Linked DNA regions of Homo sapiens: regions 2, 3, 4 and 5 are each reported to be linked to region 1. The links are microRNA targets in miRTarBase. Many come from high-throughput screens and were not tested one by one. Region 1 holds a microRNA gene; each other region holds the end of a gene's coding sequence.

The links. Region 1 holds the annotated microRNA hsa-miR-106b-5p (UAAAGUGCUGACAGUGCAGAU, at 3,160-3,180, shown strand). A microRNA usually pairs through its seed, bases 2 to 8, with sites in the 3' UTR of a target mRNA and lowers its output. Matches are read on the target gene's strand: a 7mer-m8 pairs with bases 2 to 8, a 7mer-A1 pairs with bases 2 to 7 and ends in A, and an 8mer does both.
Region 2: the mRNA of ABTB2 is a reported target of hsa-miR-106b-5p. The part of its 3' UTR that is shown has no 7-base or 8-base seed match.
Region 3: miRTarBase lists RPL7 as a target of hsa-miR-106b-5p. The part of its 3' UTR that is shown has no 7-base or 8-base seed match.
Region 4: miRTarBase lists MTMR3 as a target of hsa-miR-106b-5p. Seed matches in the 3' UTR shown: 7mer-m8 at 3,341-3,347 and 7mer-m8 at 1,561-1,567.
Region 5: miRTarBase lists ATG2B as a target of hsa-miR-106b-5p. Seed matches in the 3' UTR shown: 8mer at 2,977-2,984.

The regions. Positions count from the first base shown.
Region 1 is chr7:100,092,926-100,097,222 of GRCh38, reverse strand. It overlaps MIR106B (microRNA 106b), which reads left to right and starts at 3,149; the gene lies at 3,149-3,230. MCM7 (minichromosome maintenance complex component 7) reads left to right here. Exons shown (of 15, transcript NM_005916.5): 11 at 1,056-1,449; 12 at 1,753-1,836; 13 at 2,882-3,050; 14 at 3,822-3,931; 15 at 4,090-4,297. The coding sequence ends at 4,291. It overlaps MIR25 (microRNA 25), which reads left to right and starts at 3,580; the gene lies at 3,580-3,663. It overlaps MIR93 (microRNA 93), which reads left to right and starts at 3,376; the gene lies at 3,376-3,455. RefSeq lists an enhancer at 1,222-1,722.
Region 2 is chr11:34,148,692-34,152,691 of GRCh38, reverse strand. It overlaps ABTB2 (ankyrin repeat and BTB domain containing 2), which reads left to right. Exons shown (of 17, transcript NM_145804.3): 17 at 108-1,705. The coding sequence ends at 305. Among named protein-coding and RNA genes, the nearest start is that of NAT10, 45 kb to the right of the region's middle. RefSeq lists an enhancer at 2,243-2,772.
Region 3 is chr8:73,287,753-73,291,752 of GRCh38, forward strand. RPL7 (ribosomal protein L7) reads right to left here. Exons shown (of 7, transcript NM_000971.4): 5 at 3,800-3,909; 6 at 3,291-3,500; 7 at 2,490-2,953. The coding sequence ends at 3,292. Among named protein-coding and RNA genes, the nearest start is that of RPL7, 3.9 kb to the right of the region's middle.
Region 4 is chr22:30,025,231-30,029,230 of GRCh38, reverse strand. It overlaps MTMR3 (myotubularin related protein 3), which reads right to left. Exons shown (of 20, transcript NM_021090.4): 20 at 1-3,601. The coding sequence ends at 3,430. The region is part of intron 3 of HORMAD2-AS1 (HORMAD2 and MTMR3 antisense RNA 1); the gene reads left to right. Among named protein-coding and RNA genes, the nearest start is that of MIR6818, 20 kb to the right of the region's middle.
Region 5 is chr14:96,282,181-96,286,180 of GRCh38, forward strand. ATG2B (autophagy related 2B) reads right to left here. Exons shown (of 42, transcript NM_018036.7): 42 at 1-3,805. The coding sequence ends at 3,575. Among named protein-coding and RNA genes, the nearest start is that of BDKRB1-AS1, 16 kb to the left of the region's middle. RefSeq lists an enhancer at 140-680.

The DNA.
Region 1 (4,297 bases):
GTTTGCTCACGCCTGTAATCCCAATGCTCTGAGAGGCTGAGGCAGGAGAATCATTTGAGGCGAGGATTTTGAGACCGCTTCCATGTCTACTAAAAAGTTTTGTTTTTGTTTTTGTTTTTTTTGAGATAGAGGCTTGCTCTTTCGCCCAGGCCGGAGTGCAGTGGCGCTATCTCGGTTCACTGCAAGCTCCACCTCCTGGGGTCACGCCATTCTCCTGCCTCAGCCTCCCGAGTAGCTGGGACTACAGGCGCCCGCCACCACGCCTGGCTAATTCTTTGTATTTTTAATAGAGACGGGGTTTCACCGTGTTAGCCAGATGGTCTCGATATCCTGACCTCGTGATCCGCCCGCCTCGGCCTCCCAAAGTGCTGGGATTACAGGCGTGAGCCACCGCACCCGGCCTAAAAAGTTTTTTTTGTTGTTTGGGTATTGTTTTGTTTTTTGTTTTTTTTGAGACGGAGTCTCAGTCACCCAGACTGGAGTGCAATGGCATGGTCTTGGCTCACTGCAACCTCTGCCTCCCAGGTTCAAGCAATTCTCCTGCTTCGGCCTCCCGAGTAGCTGGGACTACAGGCGCGTGCCACCACACTTGGCCACTTTTTGTATTTTTAGTAGAGACAGGGTTTACTGTGTTGGGCAGGCTGGTCTCGAACTCCTGACCTCGTGATCTGCCCGCCTTGTTATCGGCCTCCGAAAGTGCTGGGATTAGAGGAGTTAGCCACTGCGCCCGGCCTCTACTAAAAAGTTTTAAAAATTGGTTGGGTGTGGTAGTGAGTGCCTATAGTCTCAGTTACTTGGGAGGCTGAGGCCGGAGGATGGCTTGAGCCCAGGAGCCAAGGTTTCAGTGAGCCACAGTTGTGTTCTGAAGAGAACCAGTGGGAGGGGAAGGGGGACATTGCCAGTGCCCCACAGATCCTCGGGCATCTCAAGAAGGCCTGGTGGAGGGAGTGGAATGATCCCAGCGCAGGCCTCGCCTCCCTGGCCCGTTTGTTGTCTTTTGCTTGTTCTCTTTCTTGTTCTTTCTCTCTCATGGTTCCTTATTTCTTCTCTTCCAGGCCAGTACACAACAGGCCGGGGCTCCTCAGGAGTGGGGCTTACGGCAGCTGTGCTGAGAGACTCCGTGAGTGGAGAACTGACCTTAGAGGGTGGGGCCCTGGTGCTGGCTGACCAGGGTGTGTGCTGCATTGATGAGTTCGACAAGATGGCTGAGGCCGACCGCACAGCCATCCACGAGGTCATGGAGCAGCAGACCATCTCCATTGCCAAGGCCGGCATTCTCACCACACTCAATGCCCGCTGCTCCATCCTGGCTGCCGCCAACCCTGCCTACGGGCGCTACAACCCTCGCCGCAGCCTGGAGCAGAACATACAGCTACCTGCTGCACTGCTCTCCCGGTTTGACCTCCTCTGGCTGATTCAGGACCGGCCCGACCGAGACAATGACCTACGGTGAATGAAGCTCAACACCCAAAGAGAGGTCCCCTGTAATGATCTGTGTAGGGAGGAGGAGAGGTGAATCAGAAAACAAATTCCACGCTCCTGGAAACCCCAGAGCCTCCCCTTTGCAGCAGGGGCTGGTCCATGGTTCTCAGGGAAATGGTGGGTTGGGGCTGAAATGCTGATGAGGATTTCCCGGGAAAGCTTGTCCCTCCTACACTGTGAGGAAGTGGCAGAGCCAAAGGAGGGACACCTAAGAGGACATGGGTGCGTAGCCCTAAAAAGGGTGTTCCTTCTAACCTTCCCTCTGTCCAGGTTGGCCCAGCACATCACCTATGTGCACCAGCACAGCCGGCAGCCCCCCTCCCAGTTTGAACCTCTGGACATGAAGCTCATGAGGTAGGAGAGCTGGGTGCGGGTGGGCAAACGTTGGCGTGGGCCGTGCGAGCCTCCTGAAAAAGTGCTTATTAGTCTTAGGGTGTGTGTTTTTCACACCACCACTTCCCGCTACAGACATGTCCAGAGCCTCAGATCAGCTTTTAAGTGGAAAATTCCACACTTCATATCATAGGGACACAGGAAATTTTGTTTCCTACACTATTTATTTTTTTTGAGACGAAGTCTTGCTCTGTCACCCAGGCTGGAGTGTAGTGATCTCAGCTCTCTGCAACCTCTGCCTCCCAGATTCAAGCGATTCTCCTGCCTCAGCCTCCTGAGTAGCTGGGATTACAGGCGCACGCCACCACGCCTGGTTAATTTTTTGTATTTTAGTAGAGAGCAGTTTCACCATGTTGGCCAGGATGCCCACCTCTGCCTCCCAAAGTGCTGGGATTACAGGCATGAACCACTGCTCCTGGCCCACAAAAATATTTTTAATAAAATTACCTTCAGGTTATGTGTATCAGTTGTATATGAAATACAGGTGAATTTCATGTTTAGACTGGAGTCCCATCCCCAAGCTATCTCATGCATATGCAAATACTCCAAAATTTAAAGTTTAAAACACCTGCTCCCAGGCATTCTGGATGATAATCTCTATCGCTATTTTCCCATGAGCCTCCAGTGTTCTTTCCGGTTTTTACTCCCTTTTAAATATTCTGTAAACAGTTCTCTTTAAATAAAATATATGTTTTGCCATGTCATGCGCTCAGAGGAGGGGTCTGGATCCTCTCTTAATGACAGACGGATTTGTCTTACAAAGGCCATTTTCCCGAAAAAAATAGGAAATAACTTGGAGGATACTGGTGGGGGCTATACGTTTGGTGAAATCCATCAGTGATATTCAAGCCAAGCAAATAATCACCCACTAATTTGTGTTTTCCACTTAAAATTCTTGGAGGGGACCATGTTAAATGGGGAGCCCTGGTACAGAAAACAACATGGGCTCATATTCACTCCCTTCCCCATCTCCCTCTTCTGCTTCCCCATGAACCTTCCCCCACAGGCGTTACATAGCCATGTGCCGCGAGAAGCAGCCCATGGTGCCAGAGTCTCTGGCTGACTACATCACAGCAGCATACGTGGAGATGAGGCGAGAGGCTTGGGCTAGTAAGGATGCCACCTATACTTCTGCCCGGACCCTGCTGGCTATCCTGCGCCTTTCCACTGCTCTGGTAAGTGCCCAAATTGCTGGAGGGCCATCTGTTTTGACCCTTAAAGGGGTAGCTCCTTACCGTGCTCTCATTGCCGCCTCCCCACCTCCCGCTCCAGCCCTGCCGGGGCTAAAGTGCTGACAGTGCAGATAGTGGTCCTCTCCGTGCTACCGCACTGTGGGTACTTGCTGCTCCAGCAGGGCACGCACAGCGTCCGTGGAGGGAAAGGCCTTTTCCCCACTTCTTAACCTTCACTGAGAGGGTGGTTGGGGTCTGTTTCACTCCATGTGTCCTAGATCCTGTGCTACAGACCTTCCTTTCTGTCCTCCCGTCTTGGACCTCAGTCCTGGGGGCTCCAAAGTGCTGTTCGTGCAGGTAGTGTGATTACCCAACCTACTGCTGAGCTAGCACTTCCCGAGCCCCCGGGACACGTTCTCTCTGCCAATTGTCTTCTTGGCTGAGCTCCCCAAGCTCCATCTGTCATGCTGGGGAGCCCAGTGGCGTTCAAAAGGGTCTGGTCTCCCTCACAGGACAGCTGAACTCCGGGACTGGCCAGTGTTGAGAGGCGGAGACTTGGGCAATTGCTGGACGCTGCCCTGGGCATTGCACTTGTCTCGGTCTGACAGTGCCGGCCCAACACTGCGGATGCTGGGGGGAGGGGGGATTCCACTCCTGTTTTGTGAGTAGGCGACCCATGGGCTGCCCAGCCTTAAAGCCAGAACAAGGGTGTCCCCTGACCTCGTTCCACTGCCCTCCTCCCGTTCCCATCTTTCCCCCCTACCTTCCCCTTAGGCACGTCTGAGAATGGTGGATGTGGTGGAGAAAGAAGATGTGAATGAAGCCATCAGGCTAATGGAGATGTCAAAGGACTCTCTTCTAGGAGACAAGGGGCAGACAGCTAGGTGAGTGGTTTAGTGAAGGACAAAGCTGTGTCACTTTGTCTTCTGTGGCCATGTGTCTGAGGTTGGCCTCAATTCTAACACTGGCCACCATTGTTCTCTGTTGATGTCGAGCATTCCTGTTTGTATCCTGACCTTACACACCCACTCATTTCCTTCAGGACTCAGAGACCAGCAGATGTGATATTTGCCACCGTCCGTGAACTGGTCTCAGGGGGCCGAAGTGTCCGGTTCTCTGAGGCAGAGCAGCGCTGTGTATCTCGTGGCTTCACACCCGCCCAGTTCCAGGCGGCTCTGGATGAATATGAGGAGCTCAATGTCTGGCAGGTCAATGCTTCCCGGACACGGATCACTTTTGTCTGATTCCAG
Region 2 (4,000 bases), not on the chromosome of region 1:
TGGGGCTTAATCAGGGCTGTGGCCATGGGTAGGTAGTATTTGGGGGTGAGGGTGAGTGGGGCTGTACTAAGGCGATGGGCTTCACCCCTCCTCTCTCTGCCCTACAGATCCACAATGCCCCAGAACTGGCCCTGTTCTGTGAGGGCTTCTTCCTCAAGCACATGAAGGCCCTACTGGAGCAGGATGCCTTCCGGCAGCTCATCTACGGCCGCAGCAGCAAAGTGCAGGGCCTGGATCCACTGCAGGACCTGCAGAACACCCTGGCAGAGCGCGTGCACTCTGTCTACATCACCTCCCGGGTGTGAGGCAGGGGGCGGAGGCTGCCGAGGCCAGGGCCTGTGGAGGTGCCAGGGCCCACCATGTCGGGGTATGGTTGTAGGCCCTCTTGGAGCCAGGTTCACGGGGCTGTTTCCTCCTCCTCCCCCAGATGTCCCCCCTGTCACCGGGCAGCTCACCCTCATCTCCTCTGCCCTAGAGCTGTTTGTTCAATCACTGATGGGCAAAGGGGAGATGTAGCTAACTGGTGGCCCTCCTCCCCATCTCAGTTTGCAACTCAAGGGCAGCCATGCACTCCCCCGGGGTGTCGCTCTCCCCTCCTGCAGGTCAGCAGCTGATCCTGATCCACCTCCGCCCAGGCCCTCCAAGCTCTACTCACCCCTAGGGCCTCAGTAAACTCAGACCATCCCAACTGGGGCTCCTGGGGGTACAGGAATCCTTATGAATGTATAGAATGCATACTGCCTAGGCCCCCAGTCGTCTGCAGTAATTCAAAAGCTGGTATTTTTCTTCCTAAATGTCACATAGCAAAGGCTGCCCAAATCCCCAAACTTGTTCTTCAAAGGTTTGACAGGCTTAATGTGGGCATCCAGTGGCCTGTGGACCCCCCCCTGCCACCACGACTGCTGCCACCCGGAGTTCCCCCATTGTCTTTGGTGCCTGGGCTTCCAGAGTCCCTCCCATCAGGACTACCAGCTTGCTCAGTTAGCAGCAGAGGGCAGTTCCCCAGCTTGATGGTTTCTGAGCTAAGTCTGGCATGGAGGGGCAAGGGGTAGGGGATGGGGTGCTGTGTAGGAATGGCCTCAGCTCTTGTTTTGCTGCTGGTTTTAGGGGCCAAAGTAAATGGGTGGATTCTGGAACCTCAGGCCTAGACTAGGTTGCCTTTGTGGGGGCGATGAAGCAGAGTCCCCTGGTCAAGTCTCTCGGCTCCTTTAATGTAGGATTGAGAGCTGGGCAAACAGGTCCCACTGGGGACTGTGACTCTTGGAGATTAAAGGACAGGGCATTGATGGAAGGTAAGGGCCAGGAGAAGAGGCCTTTCTGCTGTGTCCCCTCACGGCCTTGCCCTCGAATTCTGCAGGCCCTGGGCTCCCCTGACACCTGTCATATTTATGGACCAGACACTGGGGCAGCATCAGGCACAGTCTGTCTGGGTGCAACTTCTTCAGCTGTCTGGCCGCACCTTAAAAACTATTTATTCACCAAAAGCCCCAGGCATTTCAGAAGGTGGCACTCAGGTCACCCTGAAAAGCCCCCAGGGGCTTGCAATTCTGGAAAATATTTTGACTAGCTGCTTGGCTGGATGTACAAAGAAATAGGCATTATTTTATTGCTGTAATATTGTATGATACTTTAACTGTACAATAATGTTGTCACTTACTGTAAATGTACTATGGTTTTATTAACAATAAACACTCATTAACAATGACCTTGGCCTCACTGCTCCTGGTAGAGGGTTACTCAGAGTTCAGAACTGGGGAGGAGCCCCTTAGGACCAGGAAGAGATCCCAGAGCTAACGCTGTTACTCAGGTCTCCCCCCTCTCAGAGCCAAGACCCTACCAAAGCCATTGCTGTGGCCACCCAGCACTCGCCTCTCTCCAGAAACGAAGCCTGGATCCATTCCTCACCCGCCCACGCTCACATTTAATTAAGCACATGTGTGCCACTGAGCTGGACAGACACCAAATGACTGAGGAATATGACACTATCAGGCTTTCCTGATCTCCACTCCCATCCCCTCCACGGCCCTTTATGTGGGAGCTATTTTGGGGGTTGTCTTCAGAGGCACATCCCCAAATGGCACAGCCCACCAAAGTGGCAGCAGGGCCTCCTTCACCCAGGCCTGACCTGGCCTGATTGATTTGAGGGACCTATCCCTGGGTGACTGCTGCCCCCAGGCCCAGCTAAGCTAAGCTGGCTGTACCACCACAAGGCCACTAGCAGAGGTAATGGAGGGAGATGGTGAGGCGCCGACTCAGGTCCAAGAGTGTACTGGAGTTATGGCTGTAGTTTTAGGTGCAAAGTTCAGGCACAAATATAAGTTTTTAAAACATTCCCTGCCAGTTAGCTGGGCATAGTGGTGCACATCTGTATTCCCAGCTGCTCAGGAGGCTGAGGTGGGAGGATCACAGAGCCCAGGGGTTCGAGGCTGCAGTGAGCTATGATCACCCCTGCACCTCAGCCTGGACAACAAAGCAAGACTCTCTCTCAAAAAAAAAGTCGCCTGCCTGCCTGCCTGAAACAGGTATAGAAATTCCTAAGGTCACTGAGAACCTGAACCAAAGTGGCTGTGGGTCAGTGACCGGCCGTGACTCAGGCGTTAGGGGAACGACATAAAGATCCCAGTCCCTGGCAAAGCCCAATTCCAGCAGGAGCTGCGCAGGGCAGCTCGAGGCCCAGCCTGGGGACCTGTGGCCGCACAGACCCATGGTGCCCTCTGGGGGCCACTAGGAGGGGGCGCACTCCCCCACACCATCTTCCTGTGCAGTGGCCCAAGACGGTGGTGGAGCGGGCTGTCCGTCCCCAGCACTTGCCATTCAAAGTGGCTGCCCTTCATGGGTCTGTGTCCAGCGTCCCCACAAGTTCCCCCATCCCTGCAGGACATGCCTTGGTCCGTACCCAGCCTAGAAAGCAAGATCTAGTTGCATTCTGGCTCCAGATGAGGGATCCACCATTTCCTCTCTTGAGAGGGTGAGTGGGGGGTTGAGAGAAAGTGGAGGTAGGAAGGAGGGAGCGGGCCCCTTGGAGCCTGTGGGTAGCAGGAATACATTTTTGAATAAACATTTAAAATTAAAATAATTACCAAAAAAAAGCAGACATGCTTCCAAGGGGCTAGGACTCAAACAGAAATGATCACTTACCCAGGCAGCTGGACCTCCTAATTCCGGGCCACTGCTCACGGCCTGCCCTGCTCCGCCTGCTATGAGCAGCCACAGGCAGGCTTGGGGGAGTTACCCTCTTACTGGAGCCCTTGAGGACCCAGGTGCTGTGAGCATGGGTTGCATCTACAGGGATTTCACTCGGCTCCAGTGGGTCCACAGGCAAGCATAAGCTGGCGCCTTAGCCGTCTCCAAAGAAAACACCTCTCCAGAGGTGGCAGGTACCAGTCTGCTCCTGCACCGACAGGGCTAACACTGAGATTGTCCTTTTTGAGGCTGTCTGGTTTCTTTCCTGCATTCAAATCTTCTCCTGAAGCTTTCCTTTAGGCTCTCGGCCTGGAAGGCCAGTTATCCTTTTCCACATTAGTCCCCGTGCCAGATACCAGGTGGCTAGAGCTTTCTCAACGGAACCAGCCCAAGCAGGAAGCCCCGGCCTCTCCCTTTCAGGCTGCCTTTCAAGTCCGCTTTGCAGGATCCAGATGATGTTTAACTGGAACCAATTGTTTGTAGAATCAAGGGCATGCCCCCTCAGGGGCAATCCCCTGAAATTGTCTATTCCAGCCCAAGGGGCTTCCGACCCCACCCCCTCCTCCAGGCCTGCAGAATGGCTGCGGGTGTTGTAACAGGCCTCAGATAATGAGTCTACATTTTTCCAAGGTGACGGTCACTTATTTCTGCCCCTCCCCCACCTCCCAGCCTCAGCGGCCCCCTTTGTGTCCCGTCTCCTGGTCATCCGGAGTCCTCCGGGACTTCCGGGCCAGATGAGCAGTGGAAGCACTGAAGCAGGCCGGCATTAGCCCCGCCTGGCGAGGGGGTATGGGGGGTGACCATTTAGTAACCTTCT
Region 3 (4,000 bases), not on the chromosome of region 1:
GTGTGCTTGAATTAAGGATTTTGAGATGGGGAGATTATCCTCAATTATTCAAGTAGCCCAATGTAATCACAGAAGTTTTTATATTAAGAGGGAGGCAGGAGGAAGATCAAAGACGATGGAAGCAGAGATGCCACGAACCAAGAAAAGCAAGGGGCTCCCAGAACTGGAAAAGGCAAAGAAAAGGAGTCTTCAGAAGTAACACAGGCCTGCTGACCCCTTGATTTGGCTGTGAAACCTATTTTAGATTTCTGACCTCCAGAAAAGTTAAAACAATAAATTCACTTAAGTTTATGGTCATTTGTTACAGCAGCAAAAGAAAACTAATACATTCACTTAACACTGAGTGCCTACATGTCAGCAAATGGGCAGAAATTAAAAGGCCTGGCCTTAAAGTTTACTACCTAACAGAAGGGAGGCACATGAGAGGAATGTTTTGGCTCTTTGACACCACATTTCTAAGGAAAACCACTGGGAGCAGAAAGCTGTCAATCTTCCCATGGAGGTGGGCCCACAAAGACACCAGACACCCCTAAGAAGCTCTATCACATCCTATACATCCCCAGGGCACTCATTTCACTGTATCTGTTGCCTGTCTTCCCATCAGACTGATACCTGAAAGCAGAGGCTATTTTCCGTAATTCACTGTTGTGTGCCCACATTAAGTGCTGAAGCTATACTGCACAGCAGCATTGAGCACTTTCGAGCTAGGCGCTGCTCTAAGCATTTTACAGGACCTGTTAACATTTAATCTTCATTAAAATCCTATGAAATTAGGCAAAATTATCTCCATTTTGCTGACATGGAAACCGAGACAGAGATTATTTATTGGCCCACGCTAACAAATAAGTGGAGACTAGATATGAACCCAAGCACTCTGGCTCCGAAGCCAACACTCCTAATCCAGCGAACCACAAATGAACCTTCAAAGAAGTTACTAACTAGGTTAACACTGGTTAAAGGCCAGTGAGTCCAAGACAACTTTATAAAAACTGAGATAGCTAAGGGACCATCCACTAGAGAAAGCCGGACCTTAGAAGGATGAACAGGAAATAAACATATATGAGGTGTAATCTTGTAGGAGAACCTACTGGGTGCCCAGACCCCTAAGGTTGGTTAGGCCTTCCAGAGGAGGATCCCTTGAAAGCAATGACATTTATAAGAAGTGAGTTTCCTAATCAGGTGTTAATCTGCATTTGAATAGGTTCCACCAGCTCACAAACATTTTCGTACCTATTATTGTTCCTCACAATCCTCTTATAAAACCAGATTGGTTATCCCACTTTACTCTGTTCTCTATGGGAATCCTGGTTCTCTGCAACCCCTCCCACATTTCCCCATCCTCCCTGGCCCCAGGCCACACTTACAATATGTGTCTGCATGGGCTATATATTTATATATTTTTTTTTAAAAAAAGCTTTGCTAAGTATCTCTCTGTATATAAAGTGCTTATTCCTATCCCAATGAAGACTTCCCACATTTCATGCACCCACCCACCTGCACCTAGATTAAGCAAGCAATACACCATCTGTACAACTTCATTCCATAATTAGTCTTAATTCTGACCCTGCAGAGGCCACTGATGGCCCTCACTATTCCTCTAAAACCTGGAAGCCAAACAGGCTCTGACATCTTCTGAGGCACAACTACCCTTCATGACACTGGATGTGCTAACACTGGGAACTGTACTCTCTATCTACCAAAGCAGTAAGACAAAACTGAATTTATAACTTAAAAACCCTCTGGAGGCAGTGGGTCATGCCTGTAATCCCAACTATTCAGGGGACTGAGGCAGTAGGATTGCTTGAGGCCAGGAGTTCAGTAACATGCTGGGGAATACAGGCTGGTGTGGATCTCATCTCTACAAAGGAAAATTAAAAAATAAACTCTTTGGCTCTACCTAGATATCCATGTACTATTTCAAAATATTGACCCAACTGCTAAGACAAAAAACATCTAGCAAAACACTGATACAATCATAAATATGTAAAATGATTTTTATAAACGATCATCTTGATTTCTCTCCAAAATTCACTGACCCTAAACAAACTTACTAAGCCAGAGAAATAGGTCCCAAAACCAGGAACAAAGAACTCAAAGAAATTCTATTTGTCTAGCAACTTTCGAATATTAAAAAGCAATAAATGACTGTGGAGCAGTAGTACCAAAATAATTACTAAGGGAGCTGTTTCAGTGTGTCAGAACTTTGACAACTAAATGAGGACCACAAACATTTTTACTCTCATTCTATGTACTTCATGTTACACTCTACATTGTTCACTAGTCTAGGTGAAACAATACATGAAGTATAAAGGAATGTTATTTACAAAAAAACCTTTGAAGTTTTTGCCCATTAATTTCATCAGATGCTCTGAAATAATTTGCATCCCTGGGCACAAATTTCATGCCTTCCTTCATAATACCCACAGTATGTAACAATTATTAGTAACTCACGTAAGTATGGCAAAAGATGCAAAACAAGAACACAAAAATGGAATGCAAAAGGAAAACAACACATTTACATGGCAGTTTATAAACAAGCGAAGGCCCGAGAAATAAATTTTAGCAACTAAATTCAATTTTTTCCATAAACCAAAGTTGGATTACCTTACCGACAAATCATGTACAAATGCTTGTGAAACAGGCTTTCTTAGAATAAACCCATTTCGAATCACTCAGCACAGTTAAAAAACAAAAAATTAAAATCTTTTGTATAGAAAAGCCTTTTAAAAACCCAAGAGATGTCTTTCACACAGACTCGACCCTGATTTTGCACGAAATGGGCTGTTGATTTGGCTTAATTTTATCACACACCACACTTGCCACAGTAGTTAAGGGAAGACAGAGGCAGGCTAACAACAACAACAACAAATCACAAATACAACAATATATTTCAATTTGAGAGCAGGTACTGTTTATTAACCAACCAGCTTAGAAAAATAATCATGGTAGACACCTGAAAGGAAAAAAGAAAACCATTAGAAAACACTTTAGGCAGCTAACAATTAACATAAACTAGGCAGTTATAAAGTAATGATTGAGTTTACATTTTTAAGACCACCCAATTTCCATCTTTAAAGACTCCCCAAAACAGGCTTTTCCTTTCCTCCAGAAAGGTCCTCAAAAGCAGTAAACAAACCAACTGTAATCATTAAGATAGTTGACCCCCACTCCCCACAAAAGCACTGATTAAAATTCAAACCCCCATCAATATTTAATGGGAAAAGTATTCAAGATTACCACCACTTATACTCTAACATTAACTCAACCTTTCTCAGGATGAGGTCTCTCACCTTAGTTCATTCTTCTAATAAGCCTGTTGATCTGGTCCTCCCTGTTGCCAGCATCTCCACCTTCTACAAAATGGGTGGTCTTTTTCTTCATTCCACCTCGTGGAGAAGACAATTTGAAGGGCCACAGGAAGTTATTTGCCTCTTTGAAGCGTTTTCCAACAGTATAGATCTCATGAATCAAATCCTCCATGCAGATGATGCCGTATTTACCTAAATATTTTAAGGTTATTTAAGATTATTAAAGTTGCAAAAAGTTTTGAAATAATTATTCAAAATCTTTTTGAATAGGCTGTGAGATGAAAACATAACCAGGAATAAACAAGGTAAATGCATGGCTTTACAAAGATAAGGTTCAAGCTAATGAAACCATGTCTTACGTTTTCTTTTAAGCTAAATCAAGAATCATAGGGAACACATGAAGATTCACAATAGTGAGAAATGTACGGCCACAAGAGGGTAAGAAATTATCGCATGGTCTAATACCAAATTTTCCCCCAAATAGAACCTACCAAGAGATCGAGCAATCAAAGCGTTATCTGTCAAAGCAATTCGCTTCTTATTGATTTTGCCATAACCACGCTTGTAGATTAGTTCATTTACTGACTTCAGATTGGGGTACCTGAAGTGAAAAAGCAAACATAAATAAGGTGACCACTGTTAAAACATCTAAAATTCATGTTGCTACATAACCAATTTATCAAATAGAAATC
Region 4 (4,000 bases), not on the chromosome of region 1:
GCAGCTCAAAGTCACAGTTCATGCCCTGTTGCTTCAGACCAAATTCCCTCTACAGCCTGAAGCAAGCTGGCCTTGCCCACAGAGAACTGCCTTTCTCCATATGCAGCCACCTCCCTCAGGGCAATTCCTTGCCTTGGATCCTCACTGCACCTGCTTCACCAGCATCTTGGCTCTTCATCTCCCTACCCCCAGAGAAGCTTTCCATTTAGGAGCTCGCAACGCCCTTCCTAGGCCATGCCAGTGTTTTAATTTGCTGGAGACTAGCCCACAGGAACAATAGTGGCTGTGTGTAGACACGATGGCCATGGCACACACTCATGGTTTTCACAACTTCATATGAATACACAGACTGGGCTGCCTGGCGGACTGAGGGTAGCTGAGATGGCACATTCTCCTTCCACAGAAGAATGATTTCTTGTTTTCAAACGCCTGCTGGGTGGCACTTACGGCTTTCACACTAGAACCAGCTCAGCTGGCTCTTTGTGTTTGTATACTTTAGGTAGAAGGTACATTCAGAAAGTGACCCTAGAGAGACTGCCCCAAAGAGTGAAGGCCTCTGGGGAGCTCTGAGCAGGTCACTCTGGATCTTAGCCAACTCACCACAGATGCTGGGCTGGCGCCTCTGGAGCAAGGCACCCCTCAATACCAACCTTCCCGAGGGAGGAACAGCATAACATATCTCACCCACAGACCCATGTGATGGGAGGGATGCCCAACAGTGCTGTAGGGTAAAGAAAAATCTACCTCTGTGAAGAGCAAGAACTAGTATTGAAGTGACTAGATGCCACAGTCCTGCTGTAAGAGCTAAGGAGCAGAGGTTCCTCTCTGTGTGGAGAGAGGGCGGGAAGGAGACCTCTAGTTGACTGCATAACCCAATCACATCTAATTCCATTTCTGCCCCCAGTTCTCTCTGCCCACCCATAGTCTATCCTTCAAGAACAACAGGCAGAAGCATTTTCTCACCCCCACCCCACATCTCCTTCCACTCCCCGACTGAAGGGGCCAGAGTACTGGCTGCCCTGAAATCAGAGCAGCAGCTAAAAATGGAGCCTTGAGGCGAGAGGTAGTTGTAATGACTACTGATGGGAACTCTTCAGAGAAGGAGGAATAGCTGCCAGGTCAGATCCCTGACTGCTTTGCCCTCTTTTAGCCTGGGAGATTTTAGGAGCAAAATCACTGAGGAAATGCGTTCAGTGCTTGAACATCATGGTGAGGCTCCTTGCCAAGGTCTAGAGTCGGAAGGCTATCTGTAGCTTTCCTTTGCCAAAGGTCAGTTTCCCAGCAGGCCCTCAAACACTTCTGTGTGAGAGGGAAAAGGGACGAAGAGGGGATAAACCACAGGGCAAAGAATTAGGAAGTGTTAGCAAATGCTACCATGTGGAACACTCAACTTTATTTGCTTTATTTATATATTTAACAATTCTAAAGTATTTACTTCTTGCTTTGACAAAAAATGAAAAATATAGGAGCACTGACTGACTCCTCTTTAGGAGAAAAGGGTTATATGTACAGCTATGGAGAGTTACGGTTCCTCCTTTAACAAAGGAAAATATTAATAAAAAAGTGCTTCATCGATCAAAAAAGAGCTAAGAGCTGCAAGCATTTATTCACACTGTACATCAGACCCAAGAAACCCGTATCATAACCTCTTGGCACCTGTCACTAGGAAATGCACAATCTTCAATTAGACCAACTTTTTCCCTACCTGCACGACTAGATGACACAGAATGTGGAAAAGAACTACACCCTGTTTCACCACGTTCAAACTGTGTTGCCACTGGAAGTCAGAGACGTGCTCAGATGCTCTGGGCTTTGCCTGGACTGAGAGCACCAGGGAAGCCTTCTGGGCCACGCCTTAACCACACCCAGGCATGCACAGAACCACCTTCCTGAGACACACCTTGCCCTTGGTCAGGGAACTGCTACCAAGGGGAAGAGGAATACAGGGCAGGGCCAGAGCTTAAGCATTCCCTGACCTTACCCCTAGTCCTCACCATGATCCACCCTGTCACCAGTTAGCAGCTTTCAGCAGAGTCAAGCATGGCCTCCCCAAGAGGGAGGGCAGGCACAAAACATGGATGCCAAGATTACAAAGCACAAACCTAACTCTTCTCCAACCTTCCCCACACCTACCTCCACAAATATTCTTGATTTAAGGCTGTTTTTGGACCATATCAAAGCTCACTGAGGAAAGGTGCCCTGAATCTCCTCAAGGCCATGTCACTTCTCTAAGGAACCCTACGAAGTCACCAAGTGGCCCTTCACTGCTGGCCAGCAGCCAGACAAGTGCCCACTCAGACAGCCAGGAGTGGCAAAGGGGGACTGCTCAGCAGTTATTCCTGTCCCAAGAAGAGAAGAGGAGAAAGGCTGATTGTATGGGACCTGCTCCCTTTTCCAGGGGCTTGTAACTCTAAAGGCTGATTCTACCCCTTAAAGGGAAGATCCATGATTGGTTTGGTTTGGGAACGGGGGATTTCTGGAACCCTGAGTCTGGATTTCCCTGTGCTGGCTGAGGAAGAGATTGTTTAGGGGACCAGGCCCCAGAATGGGGACCCAGGTGTGTCTGGGCTCAGGGCAGGCTTTGGCCTTGACTGCATAAACATTTTGACCAGTCTGTACTCATGCCTGAGGGTGGGAAGTGCTACACAGCCTGGCCCAGGAAAGCAGCCCCCTGAAAGTAAAAGGAGCCCAAGACAATCTGGGTCAAGTTAAAAATGGGATCCCACGGGGGACAACATGACGGCTACCCACTCCCAGCCCCTCGCCTGCCTCAAAGGAGCATCCACTTTCCTTTCCCAAAGAGGCGCCTAAGGGGATGCCATTTACCGTGTGCCTCTCCCTCCAAACATCAGCCTCATTTATCCATCTGTGAGGGGACTGGCTCAGCTCCTCGCAGGAGGGAGATGATGCCCAGGGCAGTGCTCTTGGGGAATATGCTTCCAGCCTCCCCAGCAGCAAAGGGTTCCCAACCAGCTCTGATGTGGCGGTGGCGTGAGGAATGGTTGCATGTTAGCACTGGCTTTCTTCCCTGCTCACGGTCTCAGATCTCCATACTCCTGGCTCTGACCACCATCCTCCCACCCGGAAGAAACAAGCCATCCCTCAGTGTCACGTGACAGCAGGCAGCTCGGCAGTTACAGTGGGCCTGGCAACCCTTGGTCTTCCATCAAAAAAAAAAAAAATTAAGACAACCAAGGGAAAGTTTCCTTTTTTGAAGGCAGAGGAGGAGGATGGAAAAGGTAGGGAGGGAGTAGGGGGACAGGAAAGAAAAATCAATCTACAATCCAGTGGTGCATCCCAAATCTGTCACTCTGTACAGGTGGTTCCACGCTCCCATTCCAAAGTGCACGGGCCTCTCGGTCTGCCCAGGTTGAGTGGGCCTGTCATAGGAACAGCAGCTTGGCCACTGCCCACCCAGGTCACTGAGCTTCAGTTGGAAGTGGCAGCAATGGGCTTATCCAGTTCAAGGTCAATGCTGGAGCTTGTGGGATGTAGGCTGCTATAGCAAGACTTGCATACTCGACTGGGTTCAAAGAGCTGCTGGCTGGGAACTGGAACCTTCTGGTTACAACAACTGGAGCAGAATACGTTCCCACAATTCCTTGAGATGAGAAGAAACAGAACAATGTTAGTTTTGGCCAGCAGGTATGCGGAGGGAAACCAACTTCAAAAGACAAACTTTGCCGTGTGTAATTTGCATGTGCTGGAGCTCCTTGAGATCAAACCCTTTCATCTCTCTAGCCCAGGAACAAGCTGGGTAGGGAGGGTGTCCCTACCTAGCAGAGTCACATGTCATTTTCACTTTGGGGCCAAGGATTCTTGGCTGCCTCACCACTGACTCAAAAGAATGCTGCTCAGGTATACAAAAGAATGCTGCTCAAGAGAGATCTGTAAGAATACATGGTCCTAACAATGGGTTAGTCCTGATCCAGGAAAACCCAGTGGCCACACCCACCTAGGCAATGCCCTCTGTGTAGCTTGTGATCACAGAGGCCAGGCT
Region 5 (4,000 bases), not on the chromosome of region 1:
AAACTATACAAATAACCTTCCTTTTTAACCTAAGACTCAAACATTTATATTTGATTTTATTCTATTTGATACCAATTGGTATGTCCAGCTGATGCATTTGCAGATACAAAAGAATATTGCTTTGTGTTTGCACAGTCCCTTCCTTTCAAGGAACTTAAAGAACTTGATGGAGAAAAGAACTTGACGGACATTCTCTCTGAAGTCTTAAGGAGGTCAAAAGTAATGAAGGAAAACAGAAGGGGAGTGCTCGTTAGAGCCCACCATGCCCCACAGTTCTGAGGATGCGGGTGCGAGGACTCTGAAGCAAAGCAAAGCAGAGGGATCTCTCAGACGCCAAGTCACACAGCTCTTTACACATTGAAAATCTGAGTTAATGTTAAGACAATGATTAGTCAATCCTGAAACCATTTAGTGCAATTGGGGATTCCTCATTTTAAGTCGCTGCTTTAGAATTCCGCTCCCCTGCTGTCTGCATTCCGGTGGAAGCGGCATGCTGCCTTTGGACAAACAGCCTCTGCAGGGGCAGACACAGTTGTCTGGACTCTTTTGGAAATGAACAAAGACACTAAACCTACAGAACATCGTTTTTAAAGGAGATAGTTAAAAAGTAATGCCCTAAAAGCCAGAAATATTTCAATCGGCTTGAAAAGTGACACACAACAGGAGCAGGAAACACCAGTTTTTAGTATTTTGCCATCTTAGGCACACTGCTACTTGGAAAGATTTTTTAAGTGAACTTTGCCTTATAAAAATATTGATAAATATATGTACTTAAGCGAGAATCCAAATCGTACCCAAACTTCATGAAAGTGAAAGTCTATTGCTATGACATCTAGAAGAAACACTGAGTTATCTAAAAGGCAATGTTCAGTGGTGGGCAGAAAGGAAGAGAAAACGGGGGGTTCCGAGTTAGCTCCATTCAAGAGGAAGACACGGTTGTGGCCTCAGCTGCCTCTCTACTCGTCATGTAAGGGGGTCTTAACATGTCAGAACATTGTGGGGTCCTGCAACTTGCTGACAGATCTCGATGGAGCTGCTTATGGGACTCCATGGGGGGAACTGTAAGGACTCAACGTATCACTGGTGGACATGCGCGATCTACTCTAGTCAGAAGCATGACACCAACCCAACCACCCAGGCACAGTGGCAGTTCAGAAAAGTATTGCTCTGAGAGATCTGAGATCTAAGGTGGCCCCTGGCTGCTCCGCGTGTGATGTCGCCAGAGAGGACTCTCACTGGACGAGGCCCAGTGGTCTGAGGCTCTGTACAAAGCATGACGCCACATGTGATCATTCTCACACGCACACACAGCCTAATCATCCAAAACCTCCCTTTGGGCTTTGTCGTAAAAAACCCTCCATTTACCAGGAGGGATGCTGAGGCTTACAGGGATCAGATGTCCTGGACAAGTCATCCGTTTGGTAAGCTGCAGATGTGGCAAACCACGGATTCTAGCCACGCTCTTTCTACTGTGTCATCACAACACCAAAGTCTGAAAAGACACTTGTAAAAAAGAAAAAGCTTAAGGACATTTAATAATGTAGAAGTGTTCCGATATAGATAAACATCTTTCCAGAATCTCAGGTAAAGAACATCTTGGCTGAACTGACAACGAATCTTTTTGAGACACAACGTTTCTGTTCCCAAAATGATTACATCGACAACAGGTGCAGGAGGGTAGAACAAAGAAAGAACCGCGGAGATTACATTACAAAGATATATGTTTAAATGAGATTTGTAAACTTAATTTGTTTGCAACTCCGGGTGCAAAGAAGAGAATAATTATTTTTCTCTATACTGTAGTTAATTGAACTTAAGTACAACTGTGGAAAGTATATTTAAAAGTTAGACAGATTTTACAATTTTAAGTTTGATCAAGTGTTTTCCAGTTTGACTAATCATAACTGGGTTAACACACATAGCAAGTTTCCTTAAGGGCAAATGGAAAATGCTGGCATCTGAGCGGGGTGGTCAGAACGCACCCCACAGCCAGAGGCGCCTTCCCGGTAACACAGCACGCCTTCCTGTTAGTGTGTCGCCAGGACCAGGCTCTACCCGAATAAGAGATGGTCCCACGGTGCTTAAACAGGTGGTTACGCTGTTGTCTTTTTAAGTTTTTTGGCAGTAAAAAGGAAACTAAAATTAAAAGCTATATAACCCCATTTTTATAAATTCTAAACATTTTGATTTTTGGTTTACATTGCTTTCCTGCTTAGAAAATTTAGAGAACGAAATTGATTTAACTACATTTTCCAAGCCCCAAATTGAAATGCAGTTCTGAAATTGAAGTTCAATAATATTCCCCCAACTTTAGAAAACAGGAAGTCAGGTCATGCAACTTTCAACAGTGGATATATACAAAGTTCCACCTTTTCTTTCTGCTGGATCAATCTAAAGTCAGGAATTGACAACAATTTCCCTCTTACTCCTAGGTAATGATTTACCTGATATTAACCAAAATCGATTTTGAGAAAGTGTTCCCAATTATCTTGTGGTAAATCACAGTACTGCATCTATGAATATGCTCTAAGAAAAGCAAAATATTCATGGAAGCATAAAACAATATCACCTTTAAATAAAAATACTTTATTCATTCCTGATAGGTTATCAAAATGTACACTGTTAACCAAGTAAAAATGGTATGCTGAAATAGTTAACTAGGGCATATTTGAAGAATTTTGTTTACTTTTAAAAGAGGAAAAATCACTTCCAATCTTCCCTTCCACACATTCCTAACAAGCCTGCACTATACCTGCTTAAAACTGAAAATATAAACAATTACATGGGCCCCACTTCATTACAGAATGCATTTTCCTGTACTCTTAAAGGAAGCTATTACATTGAAGTTACCTTCCTTTGCCAAAAACTTTCAGACAAGTTTACTGCTCTTTATATTTTGTGTAACTTTGTAAATTATACAAGAAATATAGCACACAACTTGAATTAATCTAAAAACACATACACATAAACACAGGATAAAGTGCAACACAACAGAACATGTCTGCAACATTCACTTTCTCAAACCCCCACAGAAGGATTTTCGGAGTAAATGGAAATAATGTTGTTCTCAAGTGCATGAACACTAAATTCAACAGAATAGGTTATTTTTCCACACTGATATTTATATTGAAAATCCTATTTGCTTTGCTTCCCCTGTGGCTTCTGTCTCTCATTTTCAGTTAAAAGTTCCGAAGCTGTGATTCTTTTTAAACCTTAAGAAAATCCAACTCCACAGAGCTACACAAAGTGTTAGAAGGCAGCTTCCAATGATCTCTCGTCGGTAACAAGGAGAATTACAGTCATCTTAACAAAAGTGAGCCTTCCACTAACTTGGCAGCAAATGCTTTAAGGACCTTTGACACCAGCCACCAAACATTTCTATAGGCAAGTATCAACTATAAATGTCAGAAGTTTTTGGTTGCATGTTGTTTTGATGTTAAATTATTTAACTAAAAAATGCTTTTGTTCCTGAGATGAGCACAATAAAATTAAACGAGCTTCCTCTGAAGCTGCTGTCAGGACTCTGAGCTCCTGGTTCCACTCTCCTTATCTTCACACTGTCAGTTCCAAGCCATCAGTCATCCCCGTGGCGCCATTTCTGTGACTCGTCTTGCCGGACATCTGGCCTAATTTGGTTTCTCATGCCACCCAGCACGTTTGACGTTGCTTCTGTGGCAACAATCAGAGGTTTCACCACTGCCGGAGGAATCTGGCGCAGAACCTCGCCCACGGCACCAGTCACCCCTCTGCTCTCGTGTTCTCGAGCCGCAGTTTCATAAATGGTCTGAGCCGTGTCTGTGATTCCCTGCGTAGAGGAGGGAGGTAGGAGAGAGGAGGGCAGTGAACAAACTCTGGTCGGAAAACTCTCTAAGCTATCCTGCAGTACACACTTTTAAAGCAGGTAACATTATGTTTGTAACCAGACAAAAAAAAATGCCATGCTTTTAGATAAACCAGGATTATTATTTTTAATGACAGAATTCTAACTATAAGGGAAAGA